3 linked regions of the Homo sapiens genome follow. The protein of the gene in region 3 purifies or fractionates together with the protein of the main gene of each other region. This does not show direct contact. Each region holds a gene or a part of one and is shown on either strand. Other genes may lie near its edges.

Region 1 (3,647 bases), on a different chromosome or scaffold from region 3:
AGACCGTCTCATGAAAAAAGAAAGAAGAGGTGGTTTGCCTTGAGACTCTGGTGAGGAAATGTGTGTTACTGATAAGTTAAGCAGGCACAAAAAATAAAGGTGTAAGATACACCCAGCCTGCCAGGAGCAGCCCCGTATCACGTGACCAGTCCCGTGGGCGACACGGGCGCCCTGCAGGGCAGCAGAGAACCCACCCCAGGATGCCGGGCAGCGACGGAGCAGGCGACTCTGCACGTTCTCCTCAAAGCCCCAAACCAGACCACGGGCATGACCGGGAAGGGCACACGGAGCCCCAGGGTGGCAGCAACGCCACGGTACCCGCTCAGCTGTGCCTCACAACTGGGCCAGCAGGGGCTTCTGCCTGGACGGCTCTCCCAGACCTGGCCCCGTGCAGGGTGGCCCGGCTCTCCCCTCACCTGGCCTTAGCCCGGGTGCCGGGCCCCACCCGGCCCCACCCTCTTCACGCAGAGGCACCAGCTTGGACCCGCCCAGGGCTGAGGCTGCCCTGCTGGCCAACGGCCACACCCCAGACCCAAGGAAGAGCCTCTCCCTGGGACCTGACCGCTCTCTGGTGACCACCTGACGGCCACACAGATGTCTCCAGCAGACCCAGGCCTCAGGGCCAGGCCCTCAGGCACAGGCTGTGCCCTCTCCCCAGGAAACTCTGCCTCACGTGGCCTTCAGAGTACGGGGCAGGCCCCAACCCAGACTCACAGCCTCAGATTCTCTGCAGGACCTAACTGAGTAACGGCCGTGAAGGTGCCGTGACCAGCAGAGCTGAAAGCTGCCCAGGCACAGCTCACACGCTCCCCACCGGACTCCTGGGCGGCGCCTAGGTCAGCAACGGCTTCACCCACTTCCCTCCTGACAGCCACCACCAACCAGGTTGGGCCATGCTGTTAAGACGAACACGTGTGCACACAGCGGGTGTGAGGGCGCACTCACCTGCATGTACTCACGAGCCTACATGAACAGCTACCTGGATGTACTCACAAGCACACGCACAGCGCACTCGTACACACGACACGCACACACGTACAAGCACATGCACAGTGCACTCGTACACACGACACGCATACACATGTACTCACGAGCACACACACAGCACACGTACACACAACATGCACACACGTACTCACGAGCACGCGCACAGCACACTCGTACACACGGCACGCACACACGTACTCACGAGCACACGCACGGCACACTCATACACGACACACACGGCACACTCATGTACACACAACACACGCGCGCACACACAGGATGCCTGAGACCGGTGGCGGGAGCCTGGCTGAGCACTCACTTTCCTCATCCACTTTGAGTTCCTCGTTGAGCCTGATGGCGTCGGCAACCTCCTTCTCGCTATGGCCTTTACTCGCCAAAAACTTCACCTTATACTCGTCCCAAGACACGTGACCTGGAAGAGCAGATCACACCTGTCAGGGCCTCTGATACTGAGCTGAACTTCCTTCTCAACTGAGATGGGGTCTTGCTCTGCTGCCCAGGCTGGAAGCGGCAGGATGCCAGCGTCTGGAGCCCCAGGGCCCCGGCCAGCACCCCACACCCGTTTCCTCACCTGTGAGGCCAGCCGGCAACGTCTGTGCCTCGGGGCCACCAAGAGGCATAGACACCACCAGATGAAGGCCCCGAAGACATAAGAGGCGCCCTCCATGGGCCACGCCCAGTGCTTGGCACACACACCTCTGTCACCAGGATTCTGGCATCATGAACCCAGCTTCCGTGCACCCCACCACACCTCGGGGTCTCCGGCTGACACTTCCCCACCGCCCGTCCCTCAGACAGGGCCTGTCTGCCCTCCAGGCACCAGGCAAGGCCCATGGCCCTGCCCGCCCCGCCCACCGCCCCACCCACCCCGGCCCAGCCACAGTACCGTCCCCGTCAGGGTCCACGGCGCGGAAGTGTGTCTTGCTCTCCTCCATGGCCTCCTGGAAGTGCTCGGCCGTCTTCTCCATGATCCAGCGCTGCATCTCCTTGGCACTGATCTTCCGGTCAGTGTTCACATCCACCCTGCAAGACAGCAAATGGGCAGGTGGCCGTCAGACTGGGCCCCCAGGACCCCGAACAGCCAGACGGATGCCGCCGGCCCAGGACTCCATGGCTGCGTGAACCTGCCACCAACAGCGACAGGCTCCACCAGGCAACGCGAAAAGCGTCCGGGACGTGGGGCTTGTGGGGTGCCGGGCCACGCCAGAGACACTGGGGAAGGTGGATGCCACGGTCCCCTCCCCGGGGAAACACATGGACCCTCCCCCTCTGTCACACAGAATCACCACCAGACCCCACTCTCCAACCACAGCTTCCAAAAGTCACACTCTTCACGTTTTATTTTATTTTTTGAGATGGAGTCTCACTCTGTCACCCAGGCTGGAGTGTGGTGGCGCAATCTTTGCTCACTGCAACCTCCGCCTCCCGGGTTCAAGCGATTCTACTGCCTCAGCCTCCCGAGTAGCTGGGATTACAGGGGTGCACCACCACGCCTGGCTAATTTTTGTATTTTTAACAGAAATACGGTTTCACCATGTTGGGCAGGCTAGTCTCAAACTCCTGACCTCAAATGATCCACCCACCTCAGCCTCCCAACGTGCTAGGATTACAGGTGTGGCCACTGGGCCCGGCCCATGTTTTATTTTCGATGCTTCAGGTATGGCTACACAAAAACCTTCATATAGGCAGGACGCAGTGGCCACACCTATAATCCCAGCCCTTTGGGAGGCTAAGACAGGTGGATCACTTAAGCCCAGAAGTTCAAGACCAGCTTGGGCAACATAGGGAGACCCCACCTCTACAAAAACAATTACGAAAATTCGCCAGGCGCGGTGGCGTGCACCTGTGGTTTCAGCTACTCAAGAGGCTGAGGTGGGAGGCCTCCCGAACCTGGAATGCGAAGGTTGCAGTGAACTGTGATCACACCACTGCACTCCAGCCTGGGCGGCATACCGAGACCCTGACTCAAAACAAGACAAAACAAAATCCTTCATATAAATTTAAGTTGTGAGATTTAGGAAGAAGACCGTGTGGGGACTTAACATTGTGTGCAAGGATGGAAGAGACCACAGACTTGGGGGATAGGGACACAGACTGGGGACACGGGGCCAGCGCAGGCCAGGTCAGGAGGCCACAGGCCCCAGGACAGGTCACTCCCGTCCCAGCTTCAGAGCTCGGCTTCACCATTATGTCTTTGTGGAAGCCACAGGCTCCTACCCCTGCTGCAGCCGCCCGTGTCCTGAGCTCACCTGTTGGAAACTTAACCCCCAGGGCAACAGCACTGGGAGGCAGGGCTTCCAGAGGTGCGAGGTCTTGAGACCCCGGCTGGTGCGTTTGCCGGAGGCATCCCCGAGAGTAGGGTGCCCTGGCCCCTTGCCTCTATGCTCCGCTCAGGGGCAGCCGCGGCCACGTTATGAGGTGGCAAGCAGGCCCTCGTCAGGCAGGTGTGGCCTCTGGGACCTGGGCCAGGCAAGCTTCGAGGGTGCACACACCGCAGGCACGGCTCAGAAGCACTGGGCAGAGATCCTCATGGAAGAAGGCCAGGCTGCCGCTCACACGCGCCCCTCCCTCAGCAGCCGCAGCAGCCCAGAGGTGGACGGGCCTGGGAGGCACCCTCAGCTCCACAGTCCCCAAAACAC
Region 2 (3,647 bases), on a different chromosome or scaffold from region 3:
ATTCCTCCTACCTTGGCCTCCCAAAGTGCCAGGATAACAGGCGTGAGACACACACCAAGCTCCTACAGTATCTGTATAACATAAGTCTTCCTGTCAATTCTCTACTCACAACTTTCTGTGAGCCCTCCATTTCATGCAGGATAAAAATGCAAGTCATGACCTGGCCCCTGCTCCCTTCCTGCCCTCACCTCTTACCACTCTAAGAGCTCCAGCTGCTGCCTTTCTGTCCTGAGCTAGCACAGCACCCTCCTGCTTCGGGCTCTTTGCATCTGTGGTTCTTTCAGCCTGGAGCACTCCGCCTCCAGTTTTTCTCATAGCTTGTTCCCTCCCTTCCTTCAGGTCTCTGCTCAAATGCTTCCTCACCAGAAAGGTCTCCGCTAACCTTGCTCTATGACATGACAATCTCCTATCCCCTTTATCCCAACTTTTTGTGACTATAAACATAGAGCTAATCGTCCCTTTTAATGATGGCAGAGTATTCCATCGTGAAAATGGATCACCATTTACTTGGCTAATCCTCCTTGGAAGGGCATTCAGATGATTACCAAGTTTTTTTTTTTTTAGAGATGGAGTTTCACTCTGTTGCCCAGGCTGGAGTGCAATGGCATGGTCTCGGCTCACTGCAACCTCTGCCTCCCGGGTTCAAGCAATTCTCCTGCCTCAGCCTCCAGAGTAGCTGGGACTACAGGCACATGCCACCACACCCAGGTAATTTTTTTTGTATTTTTAGTAGAGACAGGGTTTCACCATGTTGGTCAGGCTGGTCTTGAACTCCTGACCTCGTGATCCGCCTGCCTTGGCCTCCCAAAGTGCCGGGATTACAAGCCTGAGCCACTGCGCTTGGCCAATTACCAAGTTTTTGTAAGCAACTAATAAGGGGTCTTTTTTTCTCCACTCAGACCCAAAGTATCGACACTTACTAGGTTCAACTGCTGTTGATGAAAACTATTGACATTGTTTTAGTAAGGAGTCTTATTTAGAGAATTTCAACTGAGTTTTCAGGCATGGATGACTAAGATTACTTGCTACAAACATTTATTTTAGCTTCTCAGAATTAGTAATACTTCTAAACAAAACATTCTCAGTGGACTCTATCTTACATTTAAAAATATGACTCAAATATGGTCTTGATGTATCAAGATGATTATTTCCTTGCCCTGTTTGAGAAAGGTCAGACCCCTGTTCCCATCATTCACCATGGAAGACCTCCAAAGGGCTTCATGTTCATGGAAATGAGCCCAGCATTCCTAGGAAGGCCCCAGTGGGCTTATCATTTTGGTTTTTCACACAATACAGCATATTAGAAACCAAATCATATCAGGGGTTTATTTTTTCCCTTCCACATGTAGGTCTTCTCTCTTCCCCTACACATATCTATATTTTACTTATAGAATATAATCACATTACAAACTTTTGCAAAATAAGTGTTTTGTTGTTGTTTTGAATTCCATACCCCAACACTGTAGGCTTTTCAGGGGATTTTCTTCCAGACTATTTTCTTCTACTTTCATATTTATATCTTGCCTGCTTGGTTCCTGCATGGATGTGAGATGGCTCTCACCTTTGACCCTTTCAATCTATTCTTCACAAAGCAGCCAAAGCGATCTTTCTAAAATACAAATCAGATCATGTCACTGCTCTGCTGTAAATCCTACCAAGGGTTCACATTCCAAGTAGAAAAAAAAACCCAAACTCTTTCCTGTGGCTTACACAAAACCCTACATGATCTAGCCCCTGCCTACCTCTGGGACCTTATCTCTTCCCACTTTTCTCCTTGCTTGCTCCGCTCCAGCCACACTGGCCTTCTGTCTACCAGATACACATTCATGGTTTTTTTCTCATTAAAATGTAAGCTCCATGAGAGCAAGGCCACTGCTGTAACCCTTGGGCCTAGCAGAGTGCCTGGCATGTGAAAGACATTCAAGAAATATCTGTGAGACTAAGCAGGACTGCTTTGTTAAGGAGTCCCAGGTTTGAATATAGGGCTATGGGACTCTGGATTCCCCTTAAAATCTATTTTAGTGTCTCACAAAACTTTTCGCTAAACTCACCTTTTCAAAGTCACCTATTCAAACAGATCAAAGATCTCCACTGTGGGAGGAATGCCAAGGGCCGGGGTCAAGATCCCAAGGAACTAATTCTAGCTCTACCTCTACTAGCTGTGAGATCTTTAGCAAGGCACTTAGCTTCTCTGTTCTTTGGTCTCCCCATCTGTAAAATATGAGCATTATGTATATCTCCAAGGTCCCTTCTAGTGCTGATATGTCAGAACTCCCAAAGCTCTACCCTTAAAGAGGCTTTTTAGCAGCAAGGGGAGACTCTTCCCAGTTCTTGGGGCCATGCAAACACTTACTGTTGCAAATCCGCACTCCACCTTGCTGATTTTTTCAATGGATTCCACAGCATCTCTTCCGAGTTCTAGGAGGGTGGGATCCCCCGTGGCACGGTAGAGGTACATTGCGCTTTCAATAAGTTCTGCAAAGTCCAAAGCAGACCCTCCTCACTCAGTGGCTGCACAGAGATGGCCTGGGGCCTCTTAGGGCCGTGAGGGACTACTCCCCTCCATATCTTGTCCATAAGGCCCCAACTAGCAGGAACACAGGATACCTCACCCAGTGCTGAGTTTCAGAGCCAGTATACCCAAAGCTTGAAGCTCAGTGGAGACCAGCATTAAGGCTGACCAGTGACTTCCACCACAAGGGAGAGAAAGGTGGCCAGGTTCTGGCATAGAGAAGGTGGCGGAGGTTGTTGCCTAATTCCCAATATCTGTTCCCCGCTTCCTCCTTAGTAGCAGGATTCCTAACTTTAGCTAAGCACAGGCTGCCTGGCTGCCAACACTAACTATTCTAACAGCTAGGTGGGATTAAGGACACCATGGCGAGCCATATAAGCCCAGAACATGAGAGAGAAATACATTTCTATCCTAATTAAGCTACTATTTTTTTTCCTGTCACTCAGAGTCTAACCTAATTCTAAAACTCAAAAGAAGAGTAAGAGCTTGGCATCATAAGGCTCGTTCTAAGATAGGATGGACCAAAAGAAAAGGCTGAGATATCCAAGAGCAGGCCAGGCATGGTGGGTGGCTCATGCCTGTAATCCCAGCACTTTGGGAGGCCAAGGTGAGAGGATCGTTTGAACCCAGGAGTTTGAGACCAGCCTGGGCAACATGGCGAGATCTTGTCTCTACAAAAATTAAAAATGATTAGCTGGGTGTGGCATGCACCTGTAGTCCTAGCTACTCAGGAGGCTGAGGTAGGAGGATCACTTGAGCCCAGGAGTTTGAGGCTGCAGTGAGCCATGATTAAGCCACTGCGGCACTCCAGCCTGGATGACAAGAGTGAGACCTTATCTCAAAAAATAAAAATTAAAAAAATAAAATAAAATAAACCACCAAACCGTCAATCTAACAAAGACGTAGTCATCAGTTCACTGTGGCCAGAAAAAGTGATGTTTTGTCTTGCCCAATTCTATGCCACAACTGGAACTTGATGTTAAGACATGAGCTCTACCTTAAGATGAATATTAGCCAACAGGAGTGGGTCCAGATGAGAATATTTATTCTAGAGATAAGGAAATCCAAAAAAAATGTGTTTATTGCTTTCAAATACCTGAAGAACTGTTGTAGAGTTGACTTCAAGGGTGGCCTC
Region 3 (3,647 bases):
ACAACACCACATTTAAGCTCCATCCACATCACCTCGGGCTGCAGCTGGCTCTGTGCTTACAGATGGATCGCTTCCGTGGGTGACCTCTGCCACAAAACACAACAGGTCCTCTGCTCCTATCAATGGCTGGCAGAAAATTCCCAAAGCCCAGCAAGTTCCACATCCAGAAAGGCAGGGCCCAAAGGCTCCAAACTAACCCTCCCCTCCAGTGTGCTGCAGATGCATTACGGAGTACTAAAGCAGAGACAGCAACGACACCAGACAAGGGACCCAGGGATCACAGTCCTGCCCTGTCTTCACACCATCTTGCTGTGTAACCTTGAACAAATCTACTGCTCCTCTGTGGGCCTTTTTCTACATATCCAACGAGCATTGGAGCCAACAATGTCTAAAGGTCTCTCTAGCTCCAGCACTCCAAGACTCCAAGATCCTCAAAAGTGGGTTCCATTTGCATTCCATAGGCCTCACAGCAGAACAGAGGTTTCTGTGTCACTGCTAGGCACCTCCTCTGCCCAGCCCCCAACCTATAGACCATGTCTCGCTCCCCCTCCCTATCCTGTCCCCCCAGGAATGGGCTTCGTTGTCCTCAGAAGTTAAGACTACCCACAGCATCTCTACCTCGGTGAGGGGCGTCCCTGTGTCGCCAGCACAGGGGGAAATACCTGTCCAACAGTGATGGGGACAGTGTGTCAGTATACATAAGGGATCAATACATGTTCAAAACATGCCCACCAGCAAATGCCTTACATACCAGGCTCCCAACCATACTGTTGCAATTTCTATCTTTCAAACTAACTTGTAAATTATAAATGTGGTACCCAAATACCTGTATGCACATAAATAGGAAAAGGTAAACTTTTAAATTCTATCACCATAGGTTCTAGATCTTTGACAGATTGACTGAAAGACATAAAATGTCAAAAGCTGAGACTATATGTGGCTAAACACCCTCCTTCTGCAGAAACAGAACTGAGCCCAAGAGCATTCACTCGCTGGTGAGAGGCGGCCTGGGGCAGGCAGATGTTTGCACCATTCTCAGGGTCAGCGTCCTCCCCAGTGTGGCATGGGGGAGGGGAGGGGGAAAGGGGCTTGGGAGGCTGTAGCCTAAAGGCACGCAGTGGGCAAGAGACTACTGGGCAGACCCCCACTGGCCTTCCGTTCCCTGGGCATCTGGGGCTGGGACGCTCCTTGTGGGTTCTGCCCTGGGAGAAGTGCCCTTGCCCAGTGCTCCTCATTAGGCTCGGTGACGGTGACGCGCTCTCTCCAGTCTTCCTCATTAGCATACCCTGGCTGACCTTTGGCTCATGGAAAAACACTTTGCTCTTCTCTGAACAATTTCTTTTTCACAATTGAGCAAATGACTGATGAGGTGACCATATTCATGACCATACTCATCTGCTGGTGGTGGGGGTGGGGGGTGTGCTGGATAAGGACAGCACTGGGCAACACCCCCGCTGGCCTCCCCACTCCAGGGAGCTGCAACTACTATGAGAATCCTGCGGGAGCCCAGGGTAGTCCAGGGTTTTCCTTTGGGCAATCAGTATTCCAGCCACTCCTCCTACTTCTGGACTCTGGAGAACCAAATTACCACCATGCACTTCCCATTCCGCCCTGTTTCCCAGCCTGAGGGTCCTGCTCTTCCTGCATGTTCAAGCTGATCTTTCTAAGGAGTAGCCTGCATGGTGCCAGCACTACCCCTTATCACAGGTAGCACCTCCCTGTGCTGGGGGAGCCTCAGGCTCTTGGGCTCAGGCCCCTAGGCTCAGGTTAGCTGACATTCCCAGCAAATCCTACAACTTTCACGGCTCTAAGACACAGTCCATTATCAGTCTCATTTTCAGAGACATGTCTTTTTTTTTTTTTTTTGAGACAGAGTTTCACTGTTGTTGCCCAGGCTGGAGTGCAATGGCGCGATCTTGGCTCACCACAACCTCCGCCTCCGGGGTTCAAGCGATTCTCCTGCCTCAGCCTCCCAAGTAGCTAAGATTACAGGCATGCACCACCACGCCTGGATAATTTTGTATTTTTAGAAGAGACGGGGTTTCTCCATGTTGGTCAAGCTGGTCTTGAACTCCTCACCTCAGGTGATCTGCCCGCCTTGGCCTCCTAAAGTGCTGGGATTACAGGCGTGAGCCACTGCGCCCAGCCTTTTAAAGACATTTCTAAGAGTGTCCTCCTTTCTTTCCCAACACTAGCAGGGACAGTAAGTGGTGTTTCCCAGGAGATGCTATGGTGTTATTTTTGCACAACAAGGGCTCTGAAGACTGCCAGGCTTGAAGTGAAGAACCACATCACCTGCATATCCCAGCCAGGTGACAATGGACACGTGGCTTCACCTCTGAGCTGTTTTCCAGCTGTACTGGGCACCTTCCACCCATCACCCTGACTGACAAGGTGTTAACAATAACGGACACTCCTCTAGCTTCTGCTACTCTCTGAACAATACTAAACTTCCATCAAATGGATTAATCCCAAAGGTAAAGTACTGGAGGGAGAAAGGTAGTATTTTCATACCACTTTCATTTGATCTCATTTAGAGAGTAGTTGAGGAATAGAGAGAACTGGGTTTTCTCTGGGATTATAGTTAGGCATTGCTTAATGACTGGGACATGTTCTGAAATACATGTCATTACACAATTTCGTCATTGTGCTATCATAGAGCATACACACCTGACCCTAGATGGCGTAGCCTACTCCACACCTAGGCTATTCGGTATGGCCTATTGCTCCTAGGCTATACACCTGTACAGGATGTTACTGTACTGGATGTTGCAGGCAACTATAACACAGTGGTATTTATGTATCTAAATGTATCTAAACACAGAAAAGGTACAGTAAAAATATGGTAGTATAATCTCATGGGACCACCATCAGATACACCATCCATCAACGACAGAAACATGGTGATGAGGCACATGACTGTACCTGCAGCCCCCGCTGTGAGGTCAATGGCAGCCTGGATAGCAGGATTGGATTTCATGTTTGCCCACTCTTCTGCTGGTCTTGTGGAAGGCAGCTCTCTGGAGCTTATGACAGGCACCACATATCCCTGGGGGGAGGCAAGAGTTCACCATTAGTCCAAGTCTGCAGCATCCTGTTCTCTAGGCCTGCAGCCAAATTACAGAACCTAAACTTCTGGGAGCCATGACCTGGGGTCCACACTGTTCCAAAGGAAAGGGGCTCAAGGTATCAGTGCAGCTTAGCAACTGCCTCCTAGAAAGCTCACAGATCAAAAACCTCCCCTGTGTATCAATGCTACAGCCACCAGCAGCACTTCAACTGACCTTTCTGAAAACTGAAAAAACGAACACCAAATAAGTAAGCCAACCACAGGTGTACCAAACCGCATCAGACTTGTTTTTTTAGAGGCCTATGTTGAGCCATCAATTGAACAGGCTCAGTTCTAAATTCAGACAGCAGCCTGTGCTGGGTGCCTAAGGGGATCTCACAAGACAGTAGGTCTGGAAAAGAGCACCCAGGCAGCCAAGGGTGGGAGCTGCACCCTGGGATCACACACGCCTTGGTGAATGCCTGCTCTACCTGCAGTGTGGCTCCTTCAGCCTCTACAGCTGGGAGTCCTCATCTGTACAAGGTGAATAATAAAAATATTATAAAACAAACACAGTCACAAATAGCCACATCAGACT

The links.
Region 1: the proteins of SLC25A15 (region 3) and SDF4 purify together in Homo sapiens (co-immunoprecipitation; one large-scale study listed by IntAct). This does not show direct contact.
Region 2: the proteins of SLC25A15 (region 3) and EDEM2 purify together in Homo sapiens (co-immunoprecipitation; one large-scale study listed by IntAct). This does not show direct contact.

Annotation. Positions count from the first base shown.
Region 1 is NC_000001.11:1,221,938-1,225,584, forward strand, and holds part of SDF4 (45 kDa calcium-binding protein isoform 2 precursor), read right to left. Parts: intron 2,032-3,647; coding exon 1,895-2,031; intron 1,421-1,894; coding exon 1,307-1,420; intron 1-1,306. UniProt on the Homo sapiens protein: May regulate calcium-dependent activities in the endoplasmic reticulum lumen or post-ER compartment. Isoform 5 may be involved in the exocytosis of zymogens by pancreatic acini.
Region 2 is NC_000020.11:35,116,245-35,119,891, forward strand, and holds part of EDEM2 (ER degradation-enhancing alpha-mannosidase-like protein 2 isoform 1 precursor), read right to left. Parts: intron 2,476-3,647; coding exon 2,354-2,475; intron 964-2,353; exon of another isoform or gene 892-963; intron 1-891. Other genes in the region: MMP24-AS1-EDEM2 (ER degradation-enhancing alpha-mannosidase-like protein 2), read right to left, coding at 2,354-2,475. UniProt on the Homo sapiens protein: Involved in the endoplasmic reticulum-associated degradation (ERAD) pathway that targets misfolded glycoproteins for degradation in an N-glycan-dependent manner.
Region 3 is NC_000013.11:40,792,560-40,796,206, reverse strand, and holds part of SLC25A15 (mitochondrial ornithine transporter 1), read right to left. Parts: intron 3,050-3,647; 5' UTR 2,981-3,049; coding exon 2,926-2,980; intron 1-2,925.